Linked DNA regions of Homo sapiens: region 2 is linked to region 1. Evidence: fine-mapped expression QTL. A gene starts in region 1. The other region holds a variant in brackets. All regions are shown on one strand. Distances are from middle to middle. Region 1 holds the start of ATP23 (ATP23 metallopeptidase and ATP synthase assembly factor homolog). Region 2 has its middle 26 kb from the start of LINC02403.

The links. PIP is the estimated chance that this variant, and not a neighbour inherited with it, causes the effect.
Region 2: its variant is fine-mapped to the expression of ATP23 in monocytes after LPS (Kim-Hellmuth 2017, PIP 0.92).

What each region holds. Positions count from the first base shown.
Region 1 is chr12:57,929,756-57,945,339 of GRCh38, forward strand. ATP23 (ATP23 metallopeptidase and ATP synthase assembly factor homolog) reads left to right here and starts at 11,812. Exons shown (of 6, transcript NM_033276.4): 1 at 11,812-12,133. The coding sequence starts at 11,947. It overlaps GIHCG (GIHCG inhibitor of miR-200b/200a/429 expression), which reads right to left and starts at 6,409. Exons shown (of 3, transcript NR_038269.1): 1 at 6,084-6,409; 2 at 5,715-5,798; 3 at 1,694-1,982. RefSeq lists enhancers at 5,834-6,334, 6,335-6,835, 11,681-12,490, 12,947-13,116.
Region 2 is chr12:58,106,148-58,121,731 of GRCh38, forward strand. No RefSeq gene overlaps it. Among named protein-coding and RNA genes, the nearest start is that of LINC02403, 26 kb to the left of the region's middle. The variant G/A (reference allele first, on the strand shown) is at 7,038.

The DNA of each region.
Region 1 (15,584 bases):
TTAATTATAACTCAATTAAAAAGTGATAGATTTTATGTGCCTCCTGATGGGTGCACACAAAGTCACTTATGAAATACTACCAACAATTTTGAACCTGAATCTGATCAGGCTCCTAGATCTAAACATCAATTTATAGGAAATAGAGGGAATAAAAAACTCTTATTTAATGACACCTTGGGGATTTGATCTGCAAAACTCAGACTGTGGGAATTATATTGTAGTACTTACACCAAGTAAGGGGCCCCTGTTCCGACCCTCCTCTGGCTGGACCCCTCTACTTAATATAGAATTAAACATTAATTTTAACCCCAGAGAAAAACACCATCAATACTTTTTCATTTGTATCAACATATATTAATCATTAAAAAAGGAACCATATTATGCATATTATTTTACAACTTGTTTTTTAAAAGCAATGCATCTTGGGACATCCTCTTTTGTCAACATACAAGTCTACCTCATTCTTTTTAACATGGTATTGAATTGTATACCACAGTTTTTCTCAGCCTTTTAGACTTTTTTCTTTTTTCTTTTTTGAGATGGAGTCTTACTTTGTCACCCAGGCTGGAGTGCAGTTGCGTGATTTTGGATCACTGCAACCTCTACCTCCCAGGTTCAAGCGATTCTCCTGCCTCAGCCTCCTGAGTAGCTGGGATTACAAGCGCCTGCCACCATGCCCGGCTAATTTTTGTATTTTTAGTACAGTTGCGGGTTCACCATCTTGGCCAGGCTGGTCTTGAACTCCTGACCTCATGATCCACCCACCTTGGCCTTTCGAAGTGTTGGGATAACAGGCATGAGCCACTGCACCCAGTGTAGACATTTTTTTCTTAATTATTACTCTCCCATGAAGTTTCAATACCACATATATACTGTATATTTGTTTATGTGCTTTACACACATATCTATGCTTTAGAAAAAAAAATTTCCCTCAAGAATCAATTTTCACCTCCTTGTTGCGATGTTGCCACCCCGTGAATTCATGATATAGGTATTCCATATCCTATTTCATATGTGTACTACTTTTGATATTCCAATACTGCATTATCTATATTTATACATATATTTTGTTTCTGTAGGATATATTTCTAGAATTGAAAGGCTGTGTTGTTATTAATATTTAACATTTAATTGATATTGCTAAAGACTGTGCCAATTATATGCCAATCAATGTATATTGAGAATCTGGCTTCAATTTTTACACTTAAGTCACAAATCCATTTGAAATTTATTCTGGGAATAAGGTAACGATCTAATTATCTTTCTCCTCTAAATCTAGCTCAATGTACTTATATACTTTACTGGATTAATCTTTTCTTGATGTACCACATATTAAATTTGGTAAGTGCTCTTAGATATATTCAGGCTTTGAATTCTGTTCCATGACTGTTTATTTATTCCATTACCACTCTATGTTTATTATTCTTGTTTTATGCTTTGTTATATAATACAATTTCCTTTTATGAATTCTATTTTCTTGTTTTTTTTTTCATGTTTTTTTTTCTCTCAATGAATTTTGGAGTAATTCTGTTTAGTCCCAAACAAGCAAACAACAAAAACAAGCTCTTAAAATACTTTTGGGATTAATATTGGAATTTTACCAAATTTGCAGATTAACTTAGTGAGACTGTAGAATACTTTTAGAGTACCTTATAGAGTTACATTTAAAATAAGACAGAGAAAAAAAGAAATGTTGATTTAATGATGTATACTTCTATATTAGAATATTTTGAGCTGTCAATGACAAAAATCCAGGTAAAACCCAAGGTTAAGTATAAAAGAGAGTTTATTGGCTCATTCAACGGATAAGTCCAGTGGTAAAACTAGTTTTCAGGCATGTCTGGATCTCTGGGTTCAAACAATGTCATCAGGACTTGGTCTCTCTGTCTTCCAGCTTAGCTTCTTTAGCTTCAATATCAGACAAACCTCCATGTGGTTGCAAAGGTGGCCTGTCTGCTCTGTGTCTGTATGTTCTTTAGCACCTGCAATATAACATCAGAGGGAGAGTTTTTTTTTTTTTTTTTTTTTTTTTTTTTTTAATAGTGCCAGCAGGCCAGGTGCGGTGGCTCACGCCTGTAATCCCAGCACTTTGGGAGGCTGAGGTGGGTGGTTCACCTGAGGTTGGGAGTTCGAGACCAGCCTGACCAACATGGATTAACCCTGTCTTTACTAAAAAAAAAAATTAGCTGGATGTGGTGGTGCATGCCTGTAATCTCAGCTACTTGGGAGGCTGAGGCAGGAGAATCATTTGAACCTGGGAGGTGGAGGTTGTGGTGAGCCGAGATTGTGGTGAGCCAAGATTGCGCCATTGCACTCCAGCCTGGGCAACAAGAGCGAAACTCCATCTCAAAAAAAATATATATATATAAATAAATAGTACCAGCAAAAGTACCAATGATGGTTCTCATTGGTCAGGTCTGAATCAAGTGTAGGAATGGGGGCAGTGTGGGCAGTTGGGAATCAGCCTCACTTGAACCAGCTAAGGCTGGTGAGTGGTGGTTTCCTGAAAGGGATGTGGAGCAACCGAAAAATCAGGAATTATACACCATAATACCTATTTATGTATTTATTTATTAGATGGAGTCTCGCTCTGTTGTCCAGGTGGGAGTGCAGAGGTGCGATCTCGGCTCACTGCAACCTCTGCTTCCTGGGTTCAAGTGATTCTCCTGCCTCAGCCTCCTGAGTAGCTGGGATTACAAGCGCCCATCACCACACTCAGCTAATTTTTATATTTTTAGTAGAGACAGGGTTTCACCATGTTGGCTAGGCTGGTCTTGAACTCCTGACCTTAGGTGATCTGGCTGCCTTGGCCTCCCAAAGTGCTGGGATTATAGGTGTGAGCCACCACGCCCTGCTGATAATACCTGTTTATAAAAAGAGGATTTAAAAGCAACATTAGGAAATATTACTAAGTTGAAGTTCTAATACTATTTTTTAGATTATGAAGTTATTTTAGGGCTAAAGGTGAAAAGAAACCAGGCCATTGGGCAAGAAAACATGATGATAGACATTAAAAAGTTACTTGTAATTGAACAATATTTGTTAGAATTATAATGCTTATTCTTGATGTTACTCTTCCTCCATTTCTTGATCTCATCACTGCTTAGATTCTCCAAAATCTTGCTTCATAAATTTGTCCTGTTTTGCAGCTTAATCTTGTCTTTTATTTTTTTCCCCTGCTCCTAAGGAACCCCATTCCCCACCTCCCTAAACAAATCAACAAGCCTTTCAATTCTACTGCTTTTTATACCTCCTCTTCTTATATTCATTGGCCAATTGTTTAAAGTCATCAGTGATTTCCTTAATCATCAAATCCAATGAACTTGGACCCTCCTTGATGGCTTGCTGTCTCTGTAGTATTTGACAATATTGACAGAACTTTCCTTCTTGAAACCCGGAATCTTAGTTCCTATGAAACCCACTCTCCTGATGTTTCTCTTAGCTTTCTGATGACTTTTTCTCTGTTTACTTTGTTGGTTTTTCTTCTTCACCTTCTTTATATGTGGGTGATTCTCAAGGTTCTGGCTTCAAACTGTTTCACTATTCACTCTTTTTTTTTTTTTTTTGGCAGTTTCAAATACTTTCAAAAGAAGGGTATACACTTTTTTTTTTTTTTTTTTTTTTGAGACAAGAGTCTCACTCTGCTGCCCGGGCTGGAGGGCAGTGGCTGCCTCCCCTGCTCAAGTGATTCTCTTGCTTCAGCCTCCCATGTAGCTGGGATTACAGGTGTGCGCCACCACACCCGGCTAATTTTTGTATTTTTGGTAGAGACGGGGTTTTGTCATGTTGGCCAGGCTGGTCTCAAACTCCTGACCTCAAGTGATCCACGTACCTCAGCCTCCCAAAGTGCTGGGATTACAGGTGTGAGCCACCACACCCAGCCTACATCTTCTATTTAACTGCTTCTGATCAGTTCCTCTCCCAACACCTGTGTGATCTAATCCTAACTGTCCACTATCTAGAAAGACAGAGCTTAACTTCTTAACTTCTTCTAAAAAGATCTTTCCCTTCTGAATCCCATGGTACTTTTTTTTTTTTAATGGCACTACTTTAAAACTTGCATTAGCTCCTTATGTGTTAAGACTTGTCTTACTTTCTGGCCTATAAAGTCGCTTTTCCTTTTTCTTTTTTTTTTTTTTTAAGGAGATGGGGCCCCTGCTCTATAAACTTCTTTAAGAAGATTTTCTTCTTTTTAAACTTTTATTTTAGGTTTGGGGGTACACATGAAGGTTTGTTGTAAAGATTATTTCATCACCCACGTATTAAGCCTAGTACCCAATAGTTATTTTTTCTGCTCCTCTGCATGCTCCCACCCTCCACCCTCAAGCAGACCCCAGTGTTTCTTGTTCCCTTAAGATTTTCTAATTCAACTCTGCATCTCCTATACTGTAAAGCACAGTGTTTTGTATTTTTTCATTTGTTTTTTCAACATACATAAGCACTGACTATGTATTGTGCTAGGAGCTGGGTAAGTGGTTAAAAAAAACCCCGTGCTTTCTGCCCTCAGACAGTTTAGAGTCTCGTGAAAATACATATTGTGATATATAATCAATAAAACTTTATTGAAAGAATGAATCTTACATCTTAAACTCCTTTTTCATCTTCTTTCCCCAAACTCCTGACCTACATTCCTGCGCCCTTTCCCCTGATAAATCCCACAGATTTCTCAAATCCAGCAGCTGAATTGGATTCATGTGCTATGGATACACATAAATAAGTTTGCCCCATGTTCAAGAAACTCACAATAAAGCACCTTCTCTCCCCAAACCTTCTGCTGATTTTAGTATCAATGTTACTAACTCCTTCTTATTACCAAGGGGAAATCTTGGTATTCTTTTTGACTTCTTCCTCTTTTTCATATTTAATTCTTTAATTCAAGCAATTATCCCTCTTGTTGAGGTCCTTTCACCTATAGCAGAGGTTGAAAATTAGTGACCCACAAATTGTATCTAGCTAGTAGAGGTGTTTTGTTTTGTATAATATTATCAAAAATATGATTTTCCTGTTTCTCCTGAAAAATCAGGCAACACTGAGTCCTTATTTTTGCAAGAATTGGCTGGAGTTTTAGATGGGACAGCTCAATCAACTCTAACATTCCAATCTCTATCACTCCTTGCTTTTGTCACATTCAGTCCATTTCCTCACTTATGAAACTTTCTTAGTCCCTAATTTAGGCATCTGAGTTTGCCGTCTCTGGCCTATATGATCATAGACTGTCAGTAGTGGAAGAGATATTAAAAGATCAACTCGTCTAACAGTCTCCTGCTTCCTCTCCCCACTCTTTAAGAGACGGAGAAATGAGGTCTAAAGAGCTTACATTACCCAATCAATTTCATACAGCTAATGTGTAACAGGATTCTATAATATGCCATTAGGCCTCCTCCCTCATACGGATCATGTTAAACTTATATTTTCCCTTTGGTTTAATTGCTAGGAACCTCAGAGCCCAATTTGTGGCACCCCTCTAGTAAATACACGGACCTTTTGGTATGAAGTTTTGGGGTATTAATATACCCCTGGCTTTATTTTGTTTTCCAATTACCTTTACCTCAGTTTCTCTTCATCATTTTCTCCTATTATAGTGTGTATTTTTTTTCCCCAAGCATACTCAATCTTTTGTGAAAGAGGTACATCCGTACAGGCGTAAACTGTCGGGCTGTATTGTCTGGCTCCCAATTTCTTTCTTTCACTGTCATTCTGCTTTGGCTACTCACATTCTCTGTTTTCCTTGACAGCCAAACTTCTTGAAAGAATTGTCTTCACATGCTGTGTCCACTTCATCCTGTCTTTTCAATTCACTGTAAACAGATTTAAAGCCTTCAATGCCTTCTTTGTTGCTATGATATTAATACCAAAATTATATTGTATTCATCCATATATGAAGGACACAAAATGGTTTTCCCTAAATTATCTCAACTATGAAAAAATATGCAGAGAAAAAAATTAATAGGTAATGCATGAAAATGTTACTTCTGGGTAGCTGGATGACTGGTGAGATTTATTTTCTTTTAAAAATTTTCCACAGTTTTAAAAACAAGCGCATTAGAACACATCCCGATGTAAATTAGAAATTCTCAACTTACATTTTCTAAAAGGAGGCAGAAAACTAGAGAAGCGACAGTGAGGAGCCACTGGGCCACACTTCATTTCACCTTAAGACTGACTCAGAGAAAAACAAGAGGGTACGACTCAGATCCCCGGGGCCAGCAGCAGGGCCGCGGGGCACGACTGGATAACCGCTTGTGAAGAAAATTTTAAGAGAGCCCTCACGACCCTTTAGCGCATCCTAAAAGACCTCTGAATATCTCTGCCTCTCCCGCTAACGGCTCCAAACCGCAGATAACGGTCAATCGCCTCCGGTTGTCCTGGTAACAGCCAGCAACCACAACCCTGCCTGCGTAACTCCTCCCAGAACACCGTGCGTCTTATCGCTTCACTTCCGGGTTCGGAGGGCCGACTTCTTCCGGAAGTATCTGCCTGCCAGTCACCTGGCGTTTTCTGGCTGTGTGGCTTTACTAGACAGAATGTGGCGTATTGTTGGGCAGGGCCCTGAGGACCCTTTTGTTGTTTCCCCCCCGTTTAACAGGACTGGAAAGCTAAGCAAAGGCTTTACTCTCACGGAATTGGATGAATTGGACGTTAGTTTTTAAAAAGCCGAAGGGTACATGTTAGCTTTATTTAACCATTCCACAATGTATATATATTTCAAAACATGTTTTATACTATAAATATAATTTTTATTTGTCAACTAAAAAACAGCATTAAGTGTTAAAAGCTGTTAAGTCAGAATATAGAGATGAATCTTTGAAATTAGAATGCTTTATTTGGGAAGAAAATAGTAATTTGGGGCATATATGTAGACTGGGGTGGTCTTCGGGATGTCTGAAGAGTGAAGAGGTTAGAGACTTTATAAGAAGGAGAAATGTTACGTATTGGTCTCCAAGAGAGTTTATTGGCACTATTAATGTTTTGGTGGGGTTGGCAAACTGATTGCTGAGTGACGGTGGTGGGTAAAATTAGTCTTAGAATTGTAGCAGACTGTCTTAGTAGCCTTTAGATTAAATTGGTTTTAAGTGTTAGCAGGCAGTTTCAGCAGCCAGGCCTGTAGAGAATTATATTTTTCAAGTGATATTTGTGACCTGAATGTTTTTTCCCTCTGGCCTCTCCACTCTTTAACTGGTATGACAAAAGTGACCCGATTTATATGATCAACTTTCACAGCTGACAGGTGGTAAACTCTTTACAATTATATGTAATTTATTTGTTACTGTGATAGATTTATACAATTTTAAATAATTTAGTTCCCATTAAAAAAGCAATTATTTTTGCTTTAGAAAATGAAGGCCAAAAAAACCCCCAAAACACAAAACCTCCAAATCCTACCCATTTAAGGACAACCAATGTGAATACTTTGTAGGAGTCTTCCAGACCCTTTCTATGAATTATAGTAAGTACAAATTCAAAATGGAATCATACTGTATATGCTAGTTTGGAACTTAAAAAACTTTTTTTTTTTTGAGACAAAGTTACTGTGTTGCCCAGGCTGCAGTGTAGTGGCCCGATCTCGGCTTACTGCAACCTCTCCACCACCTGGGCTCAAGCAATTCTCCTGCCTCAGTCTCCTGAGTAGCTTGGGATTATAGGCGGCGCCACCACACCCAGCTAATTTTTGTATTTTTAGTAGAGATGAGGTTTCACCATGTTGGTCAGGCTGGTCTCGAACTCCTCATCCCAAGTGATCTGCCTTCCTCGGTCTCCCAAAGTGCTGGGATTACAGGCATGAGCCACCCGCGCCCAGCCTGAATTTTTTTTTTTTTTGAGCTGTTGTCTTGCTCTGTCGCCCAGGCTGGAGTGCAGTGGCGCGATCCCAGCTCACTGAGGCAGGAGAATTGCTTGAACCCAGGAGGCAGAGGTTGCAGTGAGCCGGGATGGCGCCACTGCACTCCAGCCTGGGCGACAGAGCAAGACTCTGGCTCAAAAAACAAAAAAACAAAAAAACAAAACAAAACACCCAAAAACTTTTAATGAACATATTTTGTTTAAAAAAGACACTTAACATGGTTGTATATATTCCATTATACCTCTTGTTGGATATTTAAACAATTGATGTCTTCCCCTGCCGCCCCTTTTTTTTGAGGAGGAGGTGTCTTGCTGTATCACACAGGCTGGTCTTGAACTTCTGGGCTCAGGCAGTCCTCCTGCCTTAGCCTCCCAAATAGCTATGATTACATGCCACTGGCCTGGCCATTTTTGCTCTCAATTAGTGCTGCAATGGAGAAATGAAAATCCTTATAGCTAAATCTTTGCCCTTGCTCTAATTTCTTTGTGGTAATTCTTTTTCTTTTTAAAACTCATTTGTATTTGCTGTTCATTATCTCTTCCTTAATGTGTTTTTATTCCATACCTATGTCTTTATACTGTATACAGATGAAGTTACACATGGCATCCAAAGCCCACTTGATTTTTTAAAGTTTATTTTTCTGATTATAAAGGTAATACATGCTTATTGAGGAACATTAGAAAATTTCAGGAGAATGTAACAAAAAAATTCCAATACCTAGACAACCATTGATACTGTGGTATGAATTTTTTTCCATCTGTTTCTTCAACAATGAGTATTGAAACAGTTTTAGCTAATTTAGTAAGGAAATGTTGCAGCTTTTGGTTTGTACGTTTTTACTTATTCCTGTAGCTGAAGGGTATTGCAAATAGTATCCAGAAATAAAGCCACATACCTACAACCAACTGATCTTAGACAATGACAACAAAAACATATAATGGGAAAAGACACTCTATTTAATAAATGGTGCTACACAAAGTGGATAGACATGCAGAGGAATGAAACTGCACCCCTTTCTTTCACCATATACCAAAATTAACTCAAGATGAATTAGAGTTAAATTTAAGACCTGAAACAATAAAAACCCTAGAAGAAAACCTAGGAAAAACTCTTGTGGAGATTGACCTAGGCAAATAATTTATGAGCAAGTCCTCAAAAGCAAATGCAACAAAAACAAAAACAGACAAATGAGTTTCATTAAGCTAAAAAGCTTCTGCATAGTAAGATAAAGAATCAAATAACCTACAGAATGGAAGAACATATTTACAAACTGTGCATCCAACAAAGGACTAATATCCAGAATCTACAAGGAACTCAACCAGAAAAAACTAAATAACCCTATTCAAAAGTGGGCAAAAGACAGGAATAGACATTTCTCAAAAGAAGACATACAAGTGGCTAATAAACATGATAAACTTCTCAACATCACTAATCATCAGAGAAATGCAGATTAAAACCACGGTGAGATACCATCTTGCACCAGTCAGAATGACTATTATTAAAAAGTCAAAAAACAACCCGATATTGATGAGAATTCAGAAAAAAGAGATTGCCTATACACTGTTGGTGGGAATGTAAATTAGTACAACCTCTGTGGAAACTAGTATGGAGATTTCTCAAAGAACTAAAAATAGAACTACCATTTGACCCAGCAATCTCACTACTGGCTACCCAAAGGAAAACAAATTGTGACTGGGTGTGGTGGCTCATGCTTGTAATCCTAGAGCTTTGGGAGGCTGAGGCAGGAGGATCACTTGATGCCAGGAGTTTGAGACCAGCCTGAGCAATATAGCAAAAAACCTCCATCTCTACAAAAAATTAAAAAGTTAACCAGACATGATGGTGCATGCCAGTAGTTCTAGCTACTCGAGAGACTGAGGTGGTAGGATTGCTTAAGCCCAAGAATTCAAGGCTGTGGTGAGCTATGATTACGCCACTGCACTCCAGCCTGGGTGACAGAGCAAGAACCTGTCTCTGAAAAAGAAAAAAAAAAGAAGAAATTGTTATGACAAAAAGACAAAGACATAGAATCAACCATTAACCTAAGTGTCCACCAACAGATGGTTAAAGAAAATGTGGTTATGCATACACCACGGAATACTATGCAGCCATAAAAATAATGAAATCATGTCTTTTGCAGCAACATGGATGGAGCTGGGGGCCATTATCCTAAGTGAAATAACTCAGAAGCAGAAAATCAAACACCCCATGTTCTCACTTATAAGTGGAAGCTAAAGACTGAGTGCACGTGGACATACAGAGGGGAATAATAGACACTGGGGACTCCAAAAGTGGGGAGAGTGGGAGGGGAAGGGTGAGGGTTGAAAAATTAACTATTGGGTACAATGTTCACTGTTTGGGTGATGGGTACACTAGAAGCCCAGACCTCACCACTACACAATATATCTGTATAATAAACCTACACATAAACCACCTGAATCTATGTATTAAAAAAGAAAGCATGAAAAAAATCCAAATAGTATTTCAAATGTATATAGGCTATGGTCCATTTCTAGGCATATCTAGCCTGCCTTCAGTATTCCAAACTAATCACACTGAATTGTAATGGCTTAGTTTTCCATATGTGTGTTTTAGTTCAATAACTGGATTGAAAGCTAGTTGTGTGGTCCTAGATAAATTATTGAATTTTGCTGAGCCCACTTTATCTGCAAATTAGAGATAATACTTACTTTGCAGGGTTGTAGTGAGGATTGGAAATAATGTATCCAAGGTGAATTTAATTAAAAAGTAGTTACTTTTTTTTTGACTTCTGGCTTTAATAGTCTATGTACATAGGAGTTGTTTGTATTTTTATAATATTCCAGATGAATGACTATCCTAGCATCCCACTCAATTTAGATATTGAGCATCTATGACACATAAAGCACTGTTCATAACCCTAAAGGCCTGCTGAGCCTATATTTTTCAGATATGTTTCTTACATAAACCACATGCTGCTCTTCATCTTTAGCAATTTTCTTAGTCATGTGTTTCCTCAGTCTCTTACACCTTGCCTGGCCCATCATAGTAGGTGCTGAATAAATGTGTGAGCTGAGTGGAATAATTTAGTAGGAAAAGAGAAACACACAAATTGGATAAAACCTGGCAGGCTACGATGAAAATGATTAACAGGTACAAAGTGCTTTGTACATTGGGAGATCAGGAGACATTAATTTTGATTAAGGTATCTGGGAATGCCCTGTGGAGTAGGCAGATTTGACCTGGGCCCCAATCATAGGGGCTGAGGCAAGGAGCTTAAAGATGGAAATGACAGTATGAGTTAAGGCTGAGAGGTAGAAGTAAACAGGGTGCGCTTTGTTATCAGGGAGTTATTGGTGGGGGGTGGGGCAGAAGAGTAGGGTAAACGAATGGGTACAGGTGGGAAGAAAAAATGTAGTTGGTTCCTACATTTTGAGGATTTTGATGTGACTAGTCATTCTTTATAGTTTTAAAACGTTTCTGAAAAACACTGCTTTCAATATGGCCAGAGGCATCTTTGGGCAGAGTGGATCTGAGGGATGGCAGGGGTCGGGAAAGTGGCGGGCCAGAAATGACAACTGGCTTGCCCCGGAAGAAGGCAGGGAGTGGGAGGATGGCCGAGACCTTCGGCGGCACAAGAGCAGTTAGTGGCCAATATTCGCCCCGAGGTGAGGAAGGAGTGTCTGCGAGGAGGCGGGACACCCTTAGAGCTCAGCAGGCAGCAGGAAGCTGCAGAACAACGCTTATAAAGACATGTCACCCACACTGGGAGGGCAGCAGCGAAATCCGCGGCAGCCGGGTTGTTACAGCCTTTGAGGGAAGTCGCAAGACCCAGCTCCGCCCAACAGCATCGGGCCCCGCGCCCCGCCCCATGCCCTCGCCCCGCCCCTCATCCCTCGCCCCGCCCCTCGCCTCTCGCCCCGCCCCTCGCCTCTCGCCCCGCCTCCCGCGCTCCCCGTCAGGTTCAAAGCCCCCTCCCGCCTAACGTCTTCAGCCCAGCCAGGCTGCCCTTCTTCCCTGCGGAGGGAGGGCCTGGGCGGTCGCGTTGGCGGGAGGGAGGTTACCTTTCCCAGTCTCGCTCTGGCCGCCTGAGCCAGGAGGAAGCAGCGGCGAGGTCTGCGGGAGGCATGGCGGGAGCTCCGGACGAGCGCCGGCGGGGCCCCGCGGCAGGGGAGCAGCTGCAGCAGCAACACGTCTCTTGCCAGGTCTTCCCCGAGCGTCTGGCCCAGGGGAATCCCCAGCAAGGGTTCTTCTCCAGCTTCTTCACCAGCAACCAGAAGTGCCAGCTTAGGCTCCTGAAGACGCTGGAGACAAGTAGGAGCCATGACCTGGAGGCTGTGGTTCCACAGAATGGGTCTGAGACCGGGTGGGCGAGGAAGGGCCTGGGCAACACCTGGCCAGGGGCTTCAGGTTCAGCACAGAGTCTAGACAGACTGGGCATCATGGGGGCTGGGTTGGGAGCCTGAGGCTCAGTTTCCCCACTAGAGGTGGCGCTGAGACCCTTTTCGTCGCTGTTTTTGGCTTGTGGAATGAATTTGTCTGCCCTTTTTTGTCACTCACTGTTGTGACAGATCCTCCGATTTCTTACATAAGTTATGCAGCCACACTGTGACTTCAGGGTAAGGGTGAGGCCAAGTTTTAAAGTGCCAGCCAGGTTAATTAAGGCACACAAAGGCTGTAAAAATGTAAAAATGTAATTAAGGCATACCAAGGCTGTAAAAATATAAAAGCAGTTTTGCAAACCTACCGTTCCTTGGAAGTGGTTCATGCATGAATGGGCTTCAGAGCGTAGAAATCCCTGAAATGGTCTGTGAAATCGTGTGTATGTGTGTGTGTGTGCCCCTAAGTGCATTTTTTTTTTTTTTTTGAGACGGAGTCTCGCTCTGTCGCCCAGGCTGGGGTGCAGTGGCGCGATCTTTGCTCACTGCAAGCTCCGCCTACTGGGTTCACGCCGTTCTCCTGCCTCAGCCTCCCGAGTAGCTGGGACTACAGGCGCTCGCCACCACACCCTGCTAATTTTTTGTATTTTTAGTAGAGACGGGTTTTCACCGTGTTAGCCAGGATGGTCTTGATCTCCTGACCTCGTGATCTGCCTGCCTCGGCCTCCCAAAGTGCTGGGATTACAGGCGTGAGTCACTGCGCCCGGCCCAAAGTGTATTTTTTTTTGGTCGGGGGAGAGAGTTAATAGCTTCATCATATTCTCAAAGAGGCCAACGACCCCACAAAGGTTAAGAACTGCTGTGGGTTAAACAGGGACACAACTGCCCATTGACAAATTTCTCTCCCGTCCCAGAGACATTGCACTAGAGAAGATTTCTTAATTCCTTTACATTGACATAGACTTCTTAAGTTTACTTTCAGATACATTCAGAAAATTAGTCTTAAACATACTTGTCCCAAAGCAAGGTTACTATTTCATAGCTAGTCAGTCACAGTTCAAAAGTCAACCACCGAAAGATTTTCCAACCTTCTTGGGATTACCTGCTTGTAGAGACTCAGGGAGGTAGGAGGAGGAAGGGGAGTTGAGGGTAAAAGGGGAGAGAATGATGATATTGTATTTACTGTACAAATATGTATTGAGTGCCTCCCAGGTTCTGGTGGGGGAAGTAGAAAGATGAGTTAGCACCCTGCCTTGAAGGTGCTTCAAAGTGGAATAGAGTGGAAAGAGTATGGGTTGCAGAGTTAGATGTGGGTTCAAATGCGGATCCCTTTCCTCAGGTGTGGAAGGTGACTTAACTTCTCTGATCCTCACTATCCTTATTGTAAAAAAAGAGAAGGGGAAAATACCTTTTTTAGGGTTGTTGTGAAGAATAGATTTTATGGGGCTGGGTACGGTGGCTCATGCCTGTAATCTCAGCACTTTGGGGAGCCAAGGCAGGGGGATTGCTTGAGCTCAGATGTTTAAGACCAGCCTGGGTAATATAGGGAGACCCTGTCTCTACAAAAAATAAAAAAAATTAGCTGGATGTGGTGGCTCATGCCTGCAGTCCCAACTATTTAGGAGGCTGAGGCAGGAGATTTGCTTGAACCCAGGAGGCTGAGGCTGCAGTGAGCTGTTATTGCATCACTGCACTCCAGCCTGGGCAACAGAGCGAGACCCTGTCTAAAAAAAAAAAAAGTACTGATTTTATGAATGTAAAGTACCAGCATATCAGGAGCTGAGCTGAATAAATGGTAGCTGTTTTTACAGTGGAAGGGCCACACAGTGGAGGAAGAGTGGAAATAGATAGGATGTGAGGAAGGTGGGGTGCTGAACATGAGCCCCAGTAGGAATCAATGGACCTTGATCTTCCAAGGGCAGGGTGGCTGGGAGGGTCTTTTGGTGGTATTAAAGTGTCAACCTGCAGCTTTAAAATGCTATCCCTGGGTGGGGCGTGGTGGTGGAAACCAGACCTCATGGGAGTCTCTTTTTTTTTTTTTTTTTTCACCAAAGCAATTTTATTCTAAATATTGCTGCAGGTCCTTTTTGAAGTACTAAACCATGGTTTTTTTTTTTTTTAAGTACAAGGACTACAGACTTTTGAAACTGTTTTAATTTTGTAAAATTCTCCTAGTTGCATGAATAATAATGTGCTTAATATGGTGCCTGCTACCTGGTATTCACTCAATAATACGTATTGTTAACAATAATTATTCTACTGTGAACACTCTTGCAAGGGGCAGGTTGGTAAAGCAGTAACCTATACCTGACTTTCTCATCTCACATTTCTTTTTCTCACCTATTTTTGCCTTCAACATTTTTTTTAAACCTTAGTTTCTTTTTCACTTTTTTTGGGTTACATCATATAATTGGCTGTGCATTTATATTCTCAGACAAGATGCCTATGTGAAAAGTTAATATCAGAGGCATTTGGGCTCCTTGTACTTTCCTGTAGTAGTCACGGGCCCATAGAGTCTTAGATGTGGAAGGGCCCTCAGGAATCGTCTAGGCCTCCCCGTCCCCTTACAGGGAAACCTCTGTGCTATTGCTGGCCAGATACTCTACAGACCTCTCCTGGAATACAGTTACCTGTTCCTTGAGGCTCTTTCAATCTACTGTCTATTGTTTCACCAGCTTTAATTGTTGGAGAAAAATCCTTTCTCATACTGAGCTGAAATCTGCCACATGTAACTTCCATACTTTGGTCCTTGTTCTGCCCTTTGAAGAAATATTAACTGAATCTAGTCCCACATGGCACCCCTTCAATACTTGAAAGTAGTGTGGTCCTAGTTAAGTCTTCTGTCTCCTTTCCAACCCCCCAAATCCTTTCTTGCTTCTTACTGGAAATAGTCTGTAGTACCCTAGTCACCATCCCCTGTGGAAGAGCTTCAGTGGCAGGTCCAATTTAGAAGGTGGTAGTACTCAGCATGGGACATGGTATTGCCGGTATGATCTGATCAGGACAGAACAGTGTGGCTACTGGCTTCCTCAAATCTAGGTACTGTGCTGTTGTTCACTTCTAAGAATGTGGCCCTAGATTCCCTCAGTCTTTTGGTATATACCGTAATACAACGTGTTTGATCATTTAACTAAAAATGAACTTTAAAAGCATAGTTGATATTGTCTAAGATGCTTAGTAGTACCATCTTGGTATTTGTATTAGTGTTTTATTTCAGTACAAACTTGCTTTGATGTTGATTTAAGCTTGGCCTCTCATGTCAATTTTTACCAATTTTAAGATAACATTACTTTTTTTTTGAGACAGAGTCACTCTATCGTCCAGGCTGGAGTGCAGTGGTGTGATCTCAGCTCACTGTAATGTCTGTCTCCTGGGTTCAAGTGATT
Region 2 (15,584 bases), 180 kb after region 1:
TTATAGTTCAATCCTATGGACATTGTAAGACTTTGGTCTTTAACTCAGTTCCGTGTTCCGCTTAGAGATGGTGTGGATTTGAATCCAGTAAAGCTAGAAAAGGGGTGAAACTGGTTCATTATTAGAAGACTGATTCTTTTTTTTTTTTTGAGTTTTTACACAGCCTCTTTTGTATTCAATGTTGTTTATTGAGGAGTGAATGAGAGACTACTGCCAGACATGCCAATGACACTTCACATTCAAGAGCTGGAAGCTGGAAAGCTTCCCGACTAAGTCACTGTATAAGCCTTCTGGGAAAAAGAACCAAAGTGCCATCAAATATGCCATCTTCATGCTTGTTGTCTGTCATCAGTTTGTTTCAACTTTTGGGTCCACTGGTTTGCTGGGTAGTAGGAGAAGACTGATTCTTCAAAAAAAAAAAGGGCCTGGATTTTCATTTGACAGACATCAGCTCAATTAGATCAGTGCTTTCAAGATGGCTCTTTCCTCTAGACTAGGAGGAAATGTGAAGAGAACACTTATTTATTGAGTACCTATTTTTTTCACATACTTTAAATTTTAATTTAGTCCCCACACCAACCTTTTGAGGTAGATCTTTGTATCTCTATGTTATAGAAGAAGAAATCTAGGGCAAGGCAGATTAATTGACGTGCCCAAGGTTACATAGCTGCCAAATAACACAACTGAGGCTTGATTTTAAAGCATACTTTTGCCTTCCACTTTATGGTGTCATCTCTGTCATGTCTCATACCCACAGTATGCCATCATGCCCATCATGCACAGATGCATGATTAAAATAAAAGCTCTTTGATATCCAACTTCAAGTTCATTTAACTGTCTTCTAACACATTCGTTTAATCAGCTATGGTAGCAATCTTATTTAAGTAAGGTTAGTAGATTCATGTTGATAATGAACTTGATAAATGAGTTGGTAAAAGGATACTGTTGCAACTGAAGACATTTTTGAAGTGGTTATTTGTATGTTTTAATGGATAAAAAGTAATTGTTACTATAGGATCCTTTTTGGGGCCTCAGTGCTCAGGGCAGATGGAATCCTGTCAATCAAACTTTCAGATAATAACAATTTAGCCACCAGAGATAAAGGAGCAATGCCCATATTGATATATAGTAGTTTATAGGGCCACTGAACAGAAGCTATTATGGCTGCTTGTAGGACCACCGAGTGGGAAAGCCTGCCATGTTGCTGTTATGGCAGATATGATTATCTGGAGGCTGTCTGCAAGGAGAATCCACCTGTAAGTAATTCAGAAGCTATCATATTCTATCAAGGAAAAAAAAATGTGGCTGGAGTCATTTGGGCCTCTTGAACAAAGAGGTCAGAACATGGTCACCCATTTTCAATTTCTTAGCATAGACTGTAATAAAGTCCACATGATTAGAAAAAGATGATGTAGCAAAATTAAGTCAGACAGAAGAGGCTTCAAGAAAAAGAGTATTAGAGATGAAGAGGGTTTCTACATAACAATAAAGTTTCGATTCACCAGGGAGATATAAAAACTTAAACTGATATACACTAATATCATTTTAAAATACATAAAACAAAAGTTGACAGAACTGTAAAGAGACAACCATGCCAGACATATCTGGTAGGTGAGTGGGAGATTTTAATCTAGTTTTCTCAGTAATTAATACAGCAGTTAAAAAATCAAAAAGGATATAGAAAATTTTAATAACACTAATTGTGTTATTGGTCCAACAGACATTCACAGATCACTGCACCAGCAGTCTTAGGAAATTTTGGAACATACTTTATGTAATTTATGGATTAAAGCAAAAATTATAGTGAAAAACAAAATATTGAGCAATAATGAATATACAACAAATAATTTATAAGATGCATCAAAACAACGCTTTGAAGAAAATGGACAGCCATGAATGTATATATTAAAAAAAGAAGAAAGGCTAAAAATTAAAGAACTAAGCATGCAACTTAAGACATTAGAAAAATAGTAGCAAAACAAATTTCTTCAACAAGGAGGAAGATTATAATAAAGATAGCATATATTAATGAAAAAGTAAATAAAGATACCACAGAAAGACTCAAGAAAGATAACTGTTGTATTTTTGAAAAGATTAATAAAATTAACAGTCTTCCTCTGGGAAGAACAATCAAAAAAGGAGAGAAGGCACAAATAGAAGTTGCTTGGGTGAACAAAACAGCATAACCATAGGTGATGTGGAAATTAAAAAAGAAAGTTTAAGAACATAATGAACAACATTTTGCCTATAGATTTTTTTTAGCCAAAATGGATCCTTTTTTGTTTGCTTGTTTCTTGTTTTTGTTTTGGAGAAAAATAATTTGTTGACTCATGTAACTGGATGTACAAGAATGGACTTAAGACACAGCTGAATTCAGGGACTTATGTCATTATATCTGCTCCTTTCTCCTTCTCTTGACTCCACTTAAATTTTATTTTTTTTTATTCAGGGAAAATATCCATATGCAATTTGTCATCTTTACCATTTCAAAGTGTACTGTTCAGTGATAGTAAATACATTTATAATCTTTTTTTCCCTTATCATCTTCCCCCTTCCCCTTCCGGGCCTCTAGTAACCACCAATCTCTAATTCCAGGAGATTCACTTTTTTAGCTTGCACGTATGAGTGAGAACATACAATATGTGTTTTTCTGTGCTTGGCTTATTTCATTTAATATGATGACCTCCAGTTCCATCCATGTTGCTGCAAATGACAGAATTTCATTTTTTATGGCTAAATAATATTCCATTGTGTGTGTGCGTGTGTGTAGGTACATATACACACATACATATGTACATATACATACATTTTCTTTATCCATTCATTTATTGATGATCACTTAGGTTGATTCCATATTTTGGCTATTTGTGAATAGTGCTGCAATAAACATGAGAATGAGATATCTCTTTGATATATTTTTCTTTCTTTCTTTCTTTTTTTTTTTTTTTGAGATGGAGTCTTGCTCTGTTGCCCAGGCTGGAGTGCAATGGCGCGGTCTGGGCTCACTGCAACCTCCGCCTCCTGGGTTCAAGTGATTCTCCTGCCTCGGCCTCCTGAGTAGCTGGGATTACAGGTGCCCGCCACCACACCCAGCTAATTTTTGTATTTTCTTTTTTTTTTTTTTTTATACTTTAAGTTTTAGGGTACATGTGCACATTGTGCAGGTTAGTTACATATGTATACATGTACCATGCTGGTGCACTGCACCCACTAACTCATCATCTAGCATTAGGTATATCTCCCAATGCTATCCCTCCCCCCTCCCCCCACCCCACAACAGTCCCCAGAGTGTAATATTCCCCTTCACATGTGTCCATGTGATCTCATTGTTCAATTCCCACCTATGAGTGAGAATATGCCGTGTTTGGTTTTTTGTTCTTGCAATAGTTTACTGAGAATGATGATTTCCAGTTTCATCCATGTCCCTACAAAGGACATGAACTCATCATTTTTTATGGCTGCATAGTATTCCATGGTGTATATGTGCCACATTTTCTTAATCCAGTCTATCATTGTTGGACATTTGGGTTGGTTCCAAGTCTTTACTATTGTGAATAATGCCGCAATAAACATATGTGTGCATGTGTCTTAAACATATGTGTGCATGTGTCTTTATAGCAGCATGATTTATAGTCCTTTGGGTATATACCCAGTAATGGGATGGCTGGGTCAAATGGTATTTCCAGTTCTAGATCCCTGAGGAATCGCCACACTGACTTCCACAATGGTTGAACTAGTTTACAGTCCCACCAACAGTGTAAAAGTGTTCCTATTTCTCCACATCCTCTCCAGCACCTGTTGTTTCCTGACTTTTTAATGATTGCCATTCTAACTGGTGTGAGATGGTATCCCATTGTGGTTTTGATTTGCATTTCTCTGATGGCCAGTGATGATGAGCATTTTTTCATGTGTTTTTTGGCTGCATAAATGTCTTCTTTTGAGAAGTGTCTGTTCATGTCCTTCGCCCACTTTTTGATGGGGTTGTTTGTTTTTTTCTTGTAAATTTGTTTGAGTTCATTGTAGATTCTGGATATTAGCCCTTTGTCAGATGAGTAGGTTGCGAAAATTTTCTCCCATTTTGTAGGTTGCCTGTTCACTCTGATGGTAGTTTCTTTTGCTGTGCAGAAGCTCTTTAGTTTAATTAGATCCCATTTGTCAATTTTGTCTTTTGTTGCCATTGCTTTTGGTGTTTTAGACATGAAGTCCTTGCCCACGCCTATGTCCTGAATGGTAATGCCTAGGTTTTCTTCTAGGGTTTTTATGGTTTTAGGTCTAACGTTTAAGTCTTTAATCCATCTTGAATTGATTTTTGTATAAGGTGTAAGGAAGGGATCCAGTTTCAACTTTCTACATATGGCTAGCCAGTTTTTCCAGCACCATTTATTAAATAGGGAATCCTTTCCCCATTGCTTGTTTTTCTCAGGTTTGTCAAAGATCAGATAGTTGTAGATATGCGGCGTTATTTCTGAGGGCTCTGTTCTGTTCCATTGATCTATATCTCTGTTTTGGTACCAGTACCATTCTGTTTTGGTTACTGTAGCCTTGTAGTATAGTTTGAAGTCAGGTAGTGTGATGCCTCCGGCTTTGTTCTTTTGGCTTAGGATTGACTTGGCGATGCGGGCTCTTTTTTGGTTCCATATGAACTTTAAAGTAGTTTTTTCCAATTCTGTGAAGAAAGTCATTGGTAGCTTGATGGGGATGGCATTGAATCTGTAAATTACCTTGGGCAGTATGGCCATTTTCACAATATTGATTCTTCCTACCCATGAGCATGGAATGTTCTTCCATTTGTTTGTACCCTCTTTTATTTCCTTGAGCAGTGGTTTGTAGTTGTCCTTGAAGAGGTCCTTCACATCCCTTGTAAGTTGGATTCCTAGGTATTTTATTCTCTTTGAAGCAATTGTGAATGGGAGTTCACTCATGATTTGGCTCTCTGTCTGTTGTTGGTGTATAAGAATGCTTGTGATTTTTGTACATTGATTTTGTATCCTGAGACTTTGCTGAAGTTGCTTATCAGCTTAATGAGATTTTGGGCTGAGACAATGGGGTTTTCTAGATATACAATCATGTCATCTGCAAACAGGGACAATTTGACTTCCTTTTTTCCTAATTGAATACCCTTTATTTCCTTCTCCTGCCTAATTGCCCTGGCCAGAACTTCCAACCCTATGTTGAATAGGAGTGGTGAGAGAGGGCATCCCTGTCTTGTGCCAGTTTTCAAAGGGAATGCTTCCAGTTTTTGCCCATTCAGTATGATATTGGCTGTGGGTTTGTCATAGATAGCTCTTATTATTTTGAAATACGTCCCATCAATACCTAATTTATTGAGAGTTTTTAGCATGAAGGGTTGTTGAATTTTGTCAAAGGCTTTTTCTGCATCCATTGAGATAATCATGTGGTTTTTGTCTTTGGCTCTGTTTATAAGCTGGATTACATTTATTGATTTGTGTATATTGAACCAGCCTTGCATCCCAGGGATGAAGCCCACTTGATCATGGTCGATAAGCTTTTTGATGTGCTGCTGGATTCATGTTGCCAGTATTTTATTGAGGATTTTTGCATCAATGTTCATCAAGGATATTGGTCTAAAATTCTCTTTTTTGGTTGTGTCTCTGCCTGGCTTTGGTATCAGAATGATGCTGGCCTCATAAAATGAGTTAGGGAGGATTCCCTCTTTTTCTATTGATTGGAATAGTTTCAGAAGGAATGGTACCAGTTCCTCCTTGTACCTCTGGTAGAATTCGGCTGTGAATCCATCTGGTCCTGTACTCTTTTTGGTTGGTAAGCTATTGATTATTGCCACAACTTCAGCTCCTGTTATTGGTCTATTCAGAGACTCAACTTCATCCTGGTTTAGTTTTGGGAGAGTGTATGTGTCAAGGAATTTATCCATTTCTTCTAGATTTTCTAGTTTATTTGCGTAGAGGTGTTTGTAGTATTCTCTGATGGTAGTTTATATTTCTGTGGGATTGGTGGTGATATCCCCTTTATAATTTTTTATTGCATCTATTTGATTCTTCTCTCTTTTTTTCTTTATTAGTCTTGCTAGCGGTCTATCAATTTTGTTGATCCTTTCAAAAAACGAGCTCCTGGATTCATTAATTTTTGGAAGGGTTTTTTGTGTCTCTATTTCCTTCAGTTCTGCTCTGATTTTAGTTATTTCTTGCCTTCTGCTAGCTGTTGAATGTGTTTGCTCTTGCTTTTCTAGTTCTTTTAATTGTGATGTTAGGGTGTCAATTTTGGATCTTTCCTGATTTCTCTTGTGGGCATTTAGTGCTATAAATTTCCCTCTACACACTGCTTTGAATGTGTCCCAGAGATTCTGGTATGTTGTGTCTTTGTTCTCGTTGGTTTCAAAGAACATCTTTATTTCTGCCTTCATTTTGTTATGTACCCAGTAGTCATTCAGGAGCAGGTTGTTCAGTTTCCATGTAGTTGAGCAGTTTTGAGTGAGATTCTTAATCCTGAGTTCTAGTTTGATTGCACTGTGGTCTGAGAGATAGTTTGTTATAATTTCTGTTCTTTTACATTTGCTGAGGAGAGCTTTACTTCCCAGTATGTGGTCAATTTTGGAATAGGTGTGGTGTGGTGCTGAAAAAAATGTATATTCTGTTGATTTGGGGTGGAGAGTTCTGTAGATGTCTATTAGGTCCGCTTGGTGCAGAGCTGAGTTCAATTCCTGGGTATCCTTGTTGACTTTCTGTCTCGTTGATCTATCTAATGTTGACAGTGGGGTGTTAAAGTCTCCCATTATTAATGTGTGGGAGTCTAAGTCTCTTTGTAGGTCACTGAGGACTTGCTTTATGAATCTGGGTGCTCCTGTATTGGGTGCATATATATTTAGGATAGTTAGCTCTTCTTGTTGAATTGATCCCTTTACCATTATGTAATGGCCTTCTTTGTCTCTTTTGATCTTTGTTGGTTGAAAGTCTGTTTTATCAGAGACTAGGATTGCAACCCCTGCCTTTTTTTGTTTTCCATTGGCTTGGTAGATCTTCCTCCATCCTTTTATTTTGAGCCTATGTGTGTCTCTGCAC[G/A]TGAGATGGGTTTCCTGAATACAGCACACTGATGGATCTTGACTCTTTATCCAATTTCCCAGTCTGTGTCTTTTAATTGGAGCATTTAGTCCATGTACATTTAAAGTTAATATTGTTATGTGTAAATTTGATCCTGTCATTATGATGTTAGCTGGTTATTTTGCTCGTTAGTTGATGCAGTTTCTTCCTAGTCTCGATGGTCTTTACATTTTGGCATGATTTTGCAGCGGCTGGTACCGGTTGTTCCTTTCCATGTTTAGTGCTTCCTTCAGGAGCTCCTATAAGGCATGCCTGGTGGTGACAAAATCTCTCAGTATTTGCTTGTCTGTAAAGGATTTTATTTCTCCTTTACTTTTGAAGCTTAGTTTGGCTGGATATGAAATTCTGGGTTGAAAATTCTTTTCTTTAAGAATGTTGAATATTGGCCCCCCCTCTCTTCTGGCTTGTAGGGTGTCTGCCGAGAGATCCGCTGTTATTCTGATGGGCTTTCCTTTGAGGGTAACCCGACCTTTCTCTCTGGCTGCCCTTAACATTTTTTCCTTCATTTCACCTTTGGTGAATCTGACAATTATGTGTCTTGGAGTTGCTCTTCTCGAGGAGTATCTTTGTGGCGTTCTCTGTATTTCCTGAATCTGAACGTTGGCCTGCCTTGCTAGATTGGGGAAGTTCTCCTGGATAATATCCTGCAGAGTGTTTTCCAACTTGGTTCCATTCTCTGCATCACTTTCAGGTACACCAATCAGACGTAGATTTGGTCTTTTCACATAGTCCCATATTTCTTGGAGGCTTTGCTCATTTCTTTTTATTCTTTTTTCTCTAAACTTCCCTTCTCGCTTCATTTCATTCATTTCATCTTCCATCACTGATACCCTTTCTTCCAGTTGATCGCATCGGCTCCTGAGGCTTCTGCATTCTTCACGTAATTCTTGAGCCTTGGTTTTCAGCTCCGTCAGCTCCTTTAAGCACTTCTCTGTATTGGTTATTCTAGTTATACATTCTTCTAAATTTTTTTCAATGTTTTCAACTTCTTTGCCTTTGGTTTGAATGTCTTCCCGTAGCTCAGAGTAATTTGATCGTCTGAAGCCTTCTTCTCTCAACTCATCAAAGTCATTCTCCATCCAGGTTTGTTCCATTGCTGGTGAGGAACTGCATTCCTTTGGAGGAGGAGAGGTGCTCTGCTTTTTGGAGTTTCCACTTTTTCTGTTCTGTTTTTTCCCCATCTTTGTGGTTTTATCTACTTTTGTTCTTTGATGATGGTGATGTACAGATGGGTTTTTGGTGTGGATGTCCTTTCTGTTTGTTAGTTTTCCTTCTAACAGAGAGGACCCTCAGCTGCAGGTCTGTTGGAATAACCTGCCGTGTGAGGTGTCAGTGTGCCCCTGCTAGGGGGTGCCTCCCAGTTAGGCTTCCTGGGTGTCAGGGGTCAGGGACCCACTTGAGGAGGCAGTCTGCCCGTTCTCAGATCTCCAGCTGCGTGCTGGGAGAACCACTGCTCTCTTCAAAGCTGTCAGACAGGGACATTTAAGTCTGCAGAGATTACTGCTGTCTTTTTGTTTGTCTGTGCCCTGCCCCCAGAGGTGGAGCCTACAGAGGCAGGCAGGCCTCCTTGAGCTGTGGTGGGCTCCACCCAGTTCGAGCTTCCAGGCTGCTTTGTTTACCTAAGCAAGCCTGGGCAATGGCGGGCACCCCTCCGCCAGCCTCGCTGCTGCCTTGCAGTTTGATCTCAGACTGCTGTGCTAGCAATCAGCGAGACTCCGTGGGCGTAGGACCCTCCGAGCCATGTGCGGGATATAATCTCCTGGTGTGCCGTTTTTTAAGCCCGTCAGAAAAGCGCAGTATTTGGGTGGGAGTGACCCGATTTTCCAGGTGCCGTCTGTCACCCCTTTCTTTGACTCAGAAAGGGAGCTCGCTGACCCCTTGCGCTTCCCAAGTGAGGCAATGCCTCGCCCTGCTTTGGCTCGCACATGGTGCACGCACCCACTGACCTGCACCCACTGTCTGGCACTCCCTAATGAGATGAACCCGGTACCTCAGATGGAAATGCAGAAATCACCCGTCTTCTGCGTCGCTCACGCTGGGAGCTGTAGACCGGAGCTGTTCCTATTCGGCCATCTTGGCTCCTCCCCACTAATTTTTGTATTTTCAGTAGAGATGGGGCTTCACTATGTTGGCCAGGCTGGTCTCAAGTTGCTGACCTCGTGATCTGCCCGCATTGGCCTCCTAAAGTGTTGGGATTACAGGTGTGAGCCACCGTGCCCGGCATTAATTTTCTTTATTTTGAATATATTCCCAGTAGTGAAATTGCTGGATCATCACATGAAAGTTCTACTTTTAGCTTTTTTGAGAAACCTCCATACTGTTCTCCATATTGGTTGCATGAATTTACATTCCCACCAATAGTGTGTGAGGGTTCCTCTTTTTCCACATCCTTACCAGCATCTATTCCCTGTCTTTTTGATACAAGGCATTTTAAGTAGAGTGAGGTGATATCCTGTTATGGTTTTGATTTGAATTTTCGTAACGATTAAAGGTGTTGAGTATTTTTTTCATATACTGTTGGCCATTTGTATGTCTTCTTTTGAGAAATGTTCAGATCTTTTGACCACTTTTTGATTGAATTATTTGTTTTGTTTTGCTTTTTGCTATTGAGACAAAGGTAATTAGCTGGCACAATATGTAAGGATGGATTGTTAAAAAATTCTGTTTAAAAGACAAAAATGTACACTATTACCACTTCTATTCAACTTTATATCTTGTCTAGTCTAGCAGGCCAGAAAAGAGAAATAAAAAGTATAAAAATTTGAGAAGATATAGAAAGATTAGAACTATTTTTAAATGCTATAACTTAACTTCCAAGGGTCTGTAGACAAATTATTAGACTTAATAAGAGTTTTACAAGGTTGCTTGATATGACTATTATACAAAAATCGAATACACTTCCATACATCAACAATGAATAGTTAAAAAACAAAATTTTAACACTTAGCATTTATAATAGTTTAGAAAATAAAAGGTACCTAGGTAAAAATCTCATCAAAGATGTGTGAAATCTTTATAGAAAAAATCATGAAACTTTATTGAAAGACATTTAAAAATGAGCAGCCATATCGTTTTCAAAGACAAGAAGACTCAATATCATTAAGAAGTAATCTATCTCCAAATTAGTCAATAGATTTAATAAAATTTCAGTAAAAAAGGAAAGGTGTTTTTGTGAATCTTGAAAAACTTACTCTAAAATAGAAATTGAGAAGCAAAGAACCAAGAACAGCTAATATATTCCTGAAGAACATGAGGTTGGGGAACTGATTGTACTATAATATTGTAGATGATGTGACATTGGTGCATGGGTAGACAATAGGACAATGCAACAGAATAGAGAGTCCAGAAACAGACACATCTATGTAAGGAGAGATATAATAAAAAATATGTATTTCAGATCAGTGGTGAAAAATGAACCACTCAGTGGGAAATGCTGTCTTTATGGGAAACAGTGCATTACTACTCTTACCATACACAAAATCAGTTAAGGACCTAAATGTTAAAGATGAAAGTTTAAAACTTTTGGAAAAAAATATTGGAGAATATTTTTATTTCCTCAGGGTTGGAAAGGTTTTTAAAAACAAGACACAGAGAGCATGTACATAAAGGAAATGACTGATAAATTAAACTATACATTACAAATAACTTCTGTTCATTAAAAAGCACACAAATAGGATGAAAAGGTAAGACACAACTTAAGAGAAGATAATTTCAACTCTACGTAACTGGGCAAAGGTTTTTTTTGCAGTTCATACAGAGTTCCTAAAATCAATAAGAAAAATATGGCTCAAGTCATTCAATGATTTTTGAAGTGTCCGTGGCAGACCCCTATAGATAAATACTAGTGTAGGCCTTTAGGGTTTTGAAACAAAGCTCTGCCATCCTCTTCCAATAACCAGTCTTCTTTTGAGAAACACCTGGCTTGCTAGTGGGCCTTAGTAGAAATTAAACATTGACCATGGATCACTGAGTTACTATGTGATGTGAAGTACCCACCATGAACACTATGAGGAAGTTGCTGTGATTCTGCTGCTGTTCCCGTTATTTGTTTCCTGGTAAGCATGGTCCTGTGTTTTTTTTTTTTTTTTCTTTCCATCATGGCAGCTTAGTAGAAGCCTCAAAACCTCTTCTCTAACTTTATGAGTGTTGAGAAGCAGGATGTGGTGGCTCAGACAGTATCAGAGGATTCCTTGAAGCCAGCAGTAGAGGTGGTGGCTACCCAGTTTCCCACTTCCTGATCATGCGGATTGTAGCTCCTTTGGTGGATCAGTTTTGTCCCATTGTTCAGGGAGTTGTTCCTGGAAGTTTAGTGTGTCAATTCAGGTCGGCTGAGAAGCAGATGTCAAGATGGAAATTTCTCCCAATAAATGTGAGAGATTTATGGAGGAAAATGCCTGTGAAGAATAAAGCCAGGAGGGAGCAGGAGTGGGCAGGGAGATGAGGCTCTGACATCACCCATAAAATGAGAGGGGAAGGAAGGAGGGTTGAGCAGGAAGAGACCTGGATTGCAGTGCAGCTCTGAGAAAAGTCTCGGCTAGGCTGATGGACAGTACCCAAGCACAGCCTGCTTGTCAGAGGGGTCCTGCACTGGGCAGGAGGAGCCTGGCTCTAGAACTCCCACTGTACTAACTACTCCCTGACTTGGGGTCACCAGTTTGGAGCAGGCTGTGTAAGGCGTGGCCTCGTCTGGATGCTGGGGTAGGTGCTGAAAGTGGCAACTGCCAGCCAACTGATCTCAGGGCAGGTTCTTTCTCGAAGAGAGATCTGAGCAGCACAGTCCCAGGGTTTTCTAACTCAGCCTGGAGCCTTCTTCTTCTGTTTTTCTAATGATTTTTTGTTTTTAGAGCATCGAAATTCTGTTTCAAATCACTCACCTTAAACTAGCTTGTACAGTTTCTGTTACTGGTGGTTGAACCCTGACTACTATAACCCCTAAGCTCAGCAGAGTATCTGATGTATTGTAGAGGATCAATAATATTTCTTTTATTAATTAATTTAAGCAGAATGGCTAAAGGTCTTTTAAGAACAAAATATATATTTTTTATTATACTTTAAGTTCTGGGATACATATGCAGAACGTGCAGGTTTGTTACATAGGTATACACGTGCCATGGTGGTTTGCTGCATCCATCAACCCATCATTTACATTAGGTATTTCTCCTAATGCTATCCCCTCCCCTAGCCCCCCACCCCCCGACAGGCCCTGGTGTGTCATGTTCCCCTCCCTGTGTCCATGTGTTCTCATTGAAGAACAGGATATTTAGCATTTAATTGCTGGTTGTTTGCATTGCTGCAAATAATCCTTTTAGCAAATTCTGATAGACCCATAGAACCATATTTAGGGGTGATGTGGCTGCCACCATTCATCAGTCTGCTGACGCTTATGTTGGGGTAGCAGGAGGGGTTGTGGTCCAGGAGTTCCAGGCTGTGGTTGGTAGTGAATGAATTATTCCTGATGCAGAGAAGCAGCTACAACTTGAATTGCTTGCAGGAGCTGATGAAAGGAAAAATATAGTGCAGGGAGGTCACCTTAGAATGGGTGGGTAGGTGGCAGGTGGAGGCTGGTATATGGGTTTACATGCAAAGCAATGAATTCCATATATATCTTTATAGTTCTTCCTCAGATTTAAACATCAGCCATCAGAGCCACCTCCTTTTCTCTCTCTTGCTGCCATCTCAAGTTCTTTATTAAAGCTAATCATCTCTCTTAAATGGAAGGATTAAGGCAATCACCCTAATTCAGTCTACGCTCAGGAAGGCTCATTGTGTTTATAAAATCTTAGCTGTTTTCTGATAACTATGTTTACCAAACTTTGAACTCTACCACCAAATTCCCCCAAAATATTGAATATAATGAAGAAAAATATTTTTGTAAGAGGTTGATGTCAACAGTTTTGCAGAAAAATTCTTGGGCAAAGGGGAAACACGCAACATATCAAGACTTCTAAAATTAAAATTCGTCAGCACTTCTCTAAAAAAGCTCACCTTTTTGGTGGGAAGAGCTTCAGGGAAACACACTTAACTTACTGAGACTTCTAAAATCAAAATTTAGTCAGCACTTCCCTAAAAACACTCACTTTTTTTTTGCTGAGAAGAACTGCAGGACACTTAGGTGGAGGTGGCAATTTGTCCAGGTAATAAACACGTTAAGAACAAGAGCAGCAATCAAAGTTTTTTCTCAACCATATCTCAGGCTAATGGAGCCGAGTGCTTTCTGGTTGGGCATTTTTCATTCTGCATCTGGAACCACCCAGGCTGATGAAAGAAACTGATCTATAGTAGTATTTAGTTTTGCCAAGCAGTGTTTAATATTCCAAATGAAAAGCTGTGGAATCTCACTTGAAAAGGAGGACAAATTTAAACCAGTGTCTAATTCTCAGCCTTCTTTTTTCATTTCATCATGGTGACCTGGTACTCCCTGCTGTCTAGTGCTTTGGTTCATTATTTTGTCTGTACAGGAACTGCACCTGCCATACAAAAGCACTTAATTTAAGCATTTGGGAAGATGCCATTAATAGACTTAAAGAAAAATGTTATATATATATAATATATGTACGTATATTTAGACCCACTGATAATTTATTTAATATTTTAAAAACATTTATTTAAAAATAACAATTCTTTAATATCATAACACATCTAATAAATTATATATAATAAATTTTAAAATTTATTAGCTATGATATTAACGAATTGATAAAGATATCTAAAAAGGATATCTAATAAATTTTAAAATTTATTTATTAAAGAATTGTTGTCTTACTCTTTGTTTAAATAGTGTTACTCTTTGCTTGAGTCAGGATGTCATTAAGTTTCACACATTGTGATTGATTGATGTGCATTTAAGCCTTTTTTAATCTACAGGCTCTCCCCATTCCTATGCCTCTCTGTCTCAATGTCTCCTCTTGCAGTTTTATTGGTTGAAGAAATGAGGTCATTTGTTCTGCAGAGTTTCTTACAGTCTGGATCTTGCTGACTGCATCTCTGTGATGCCTTTTAGCATGTTCCTCAGTTCTTTGTATTTCTCATGAATTAGTAGTTGGATGCAGGCTTGATCAGATTCATAGTTGCCTTTTGGCAAGACTCCTTCCTAGACAGTGCTCTGTGTTCCCATCAGGAAGTACATGATGTCTAGTTGTCGTGTGTGTGTGTGTGATGGAAGCAACTACAGACTACAGGGGAGATCACTGACTAGACAGATTATTAATTCAAAATAAAAAGCTGCTGACTTTTTATTTTGAAATAAATATAAACTCATAGGAAGTTGGAAAAATAGTATAGAGTCACATGTACCCTTCACCTACCTTCCCTTATCTATGTAAAGAACATGTAACCCTAGTTCAATATCAAAACAGGGAAATTGGCACCAGTAGAATAATCATACACTTTTAAATGTGTTCTGATAAGAACATTTTTCTTTTAAAAGTCCAGTGAGTCATAAAAAACTGTTCATAATTTGGCTAATTACATGTGACTTTCATAAATTTGTTCCACCTCAAAATAAGAATTTTTCTCTGAAAATTAATTTATGAACCTAGGTTAAAATACATCAAAGTAGCTTTATTTTGAGCTGAAGATAGAATTGGCACTGTCTGATCCTGTTCCAGAACACTTATTTGTAATTCAGTGGTTTAAGTGTGGATTCTGGGTGTCCAGAAAAAAATAATGCCAAAGGCCCACTTTTGTTAAATGCAAAAGAAACAACCTCAGAGATGGGGTCACCTTCGTTTCCCTTGGAATGCAGGCAATGCACTTACATAATGAGTCCATGGAAAACTAGCATAGAACAGAGCTAACAGGAATGACAAAAACATTTTTAGTACTTTCTAATTTACAAAGTACTTTAGTTAAATAAAACTACCATGTAATGGGATGTCTGAACCTAAGAATCAGTGGAGGGCATATCTTGCTTAGAATATGAATTCCTTCTTTTGTGATAGCAGAGAAAAACTTAGCAATTTTGACATAGTAACAGTGTTGCTTACAGCAGTTTAAATGTTTGTTGGAATATTTCTGAGGATTCCTTCTTGTCCAGTTTTGAAATTTAAAATTATTATTTAGGTTCATAACTTGTAAAAATTGGGAGAAAATTTTGAAATCAATTGCGGTATCTACTCAAGATACACATGAGGAACTGAGGTCTAGAGAAGTGAAGTACAGTCATCCCTCGGTAAGCTGGCGGGATTGGGTCCAGGACCCCATGGATACCAAAATCCACGGGTGCTCAAGTCCCTGATATAAAATGGTGTTGTATTTGCACATAACCTATGCACACTCTCCCATGTACTTTAAACCTTCTCTAGATTACTTACATTACCTAATACAATGTAAATGCTATATAAATAGTGGTTATACTGTATTATTGAGGGAATAATGACAAGAAAAAATTCAATAATGACAAGAAAAAAGTCTGTACCTGTTCAGTACAGATATAATCTGCCCCCCCACAAAATATTTTCAATTTGCCATTGGTTGACTCCATGGATAGAGAGTACCAGGGATAGCCAG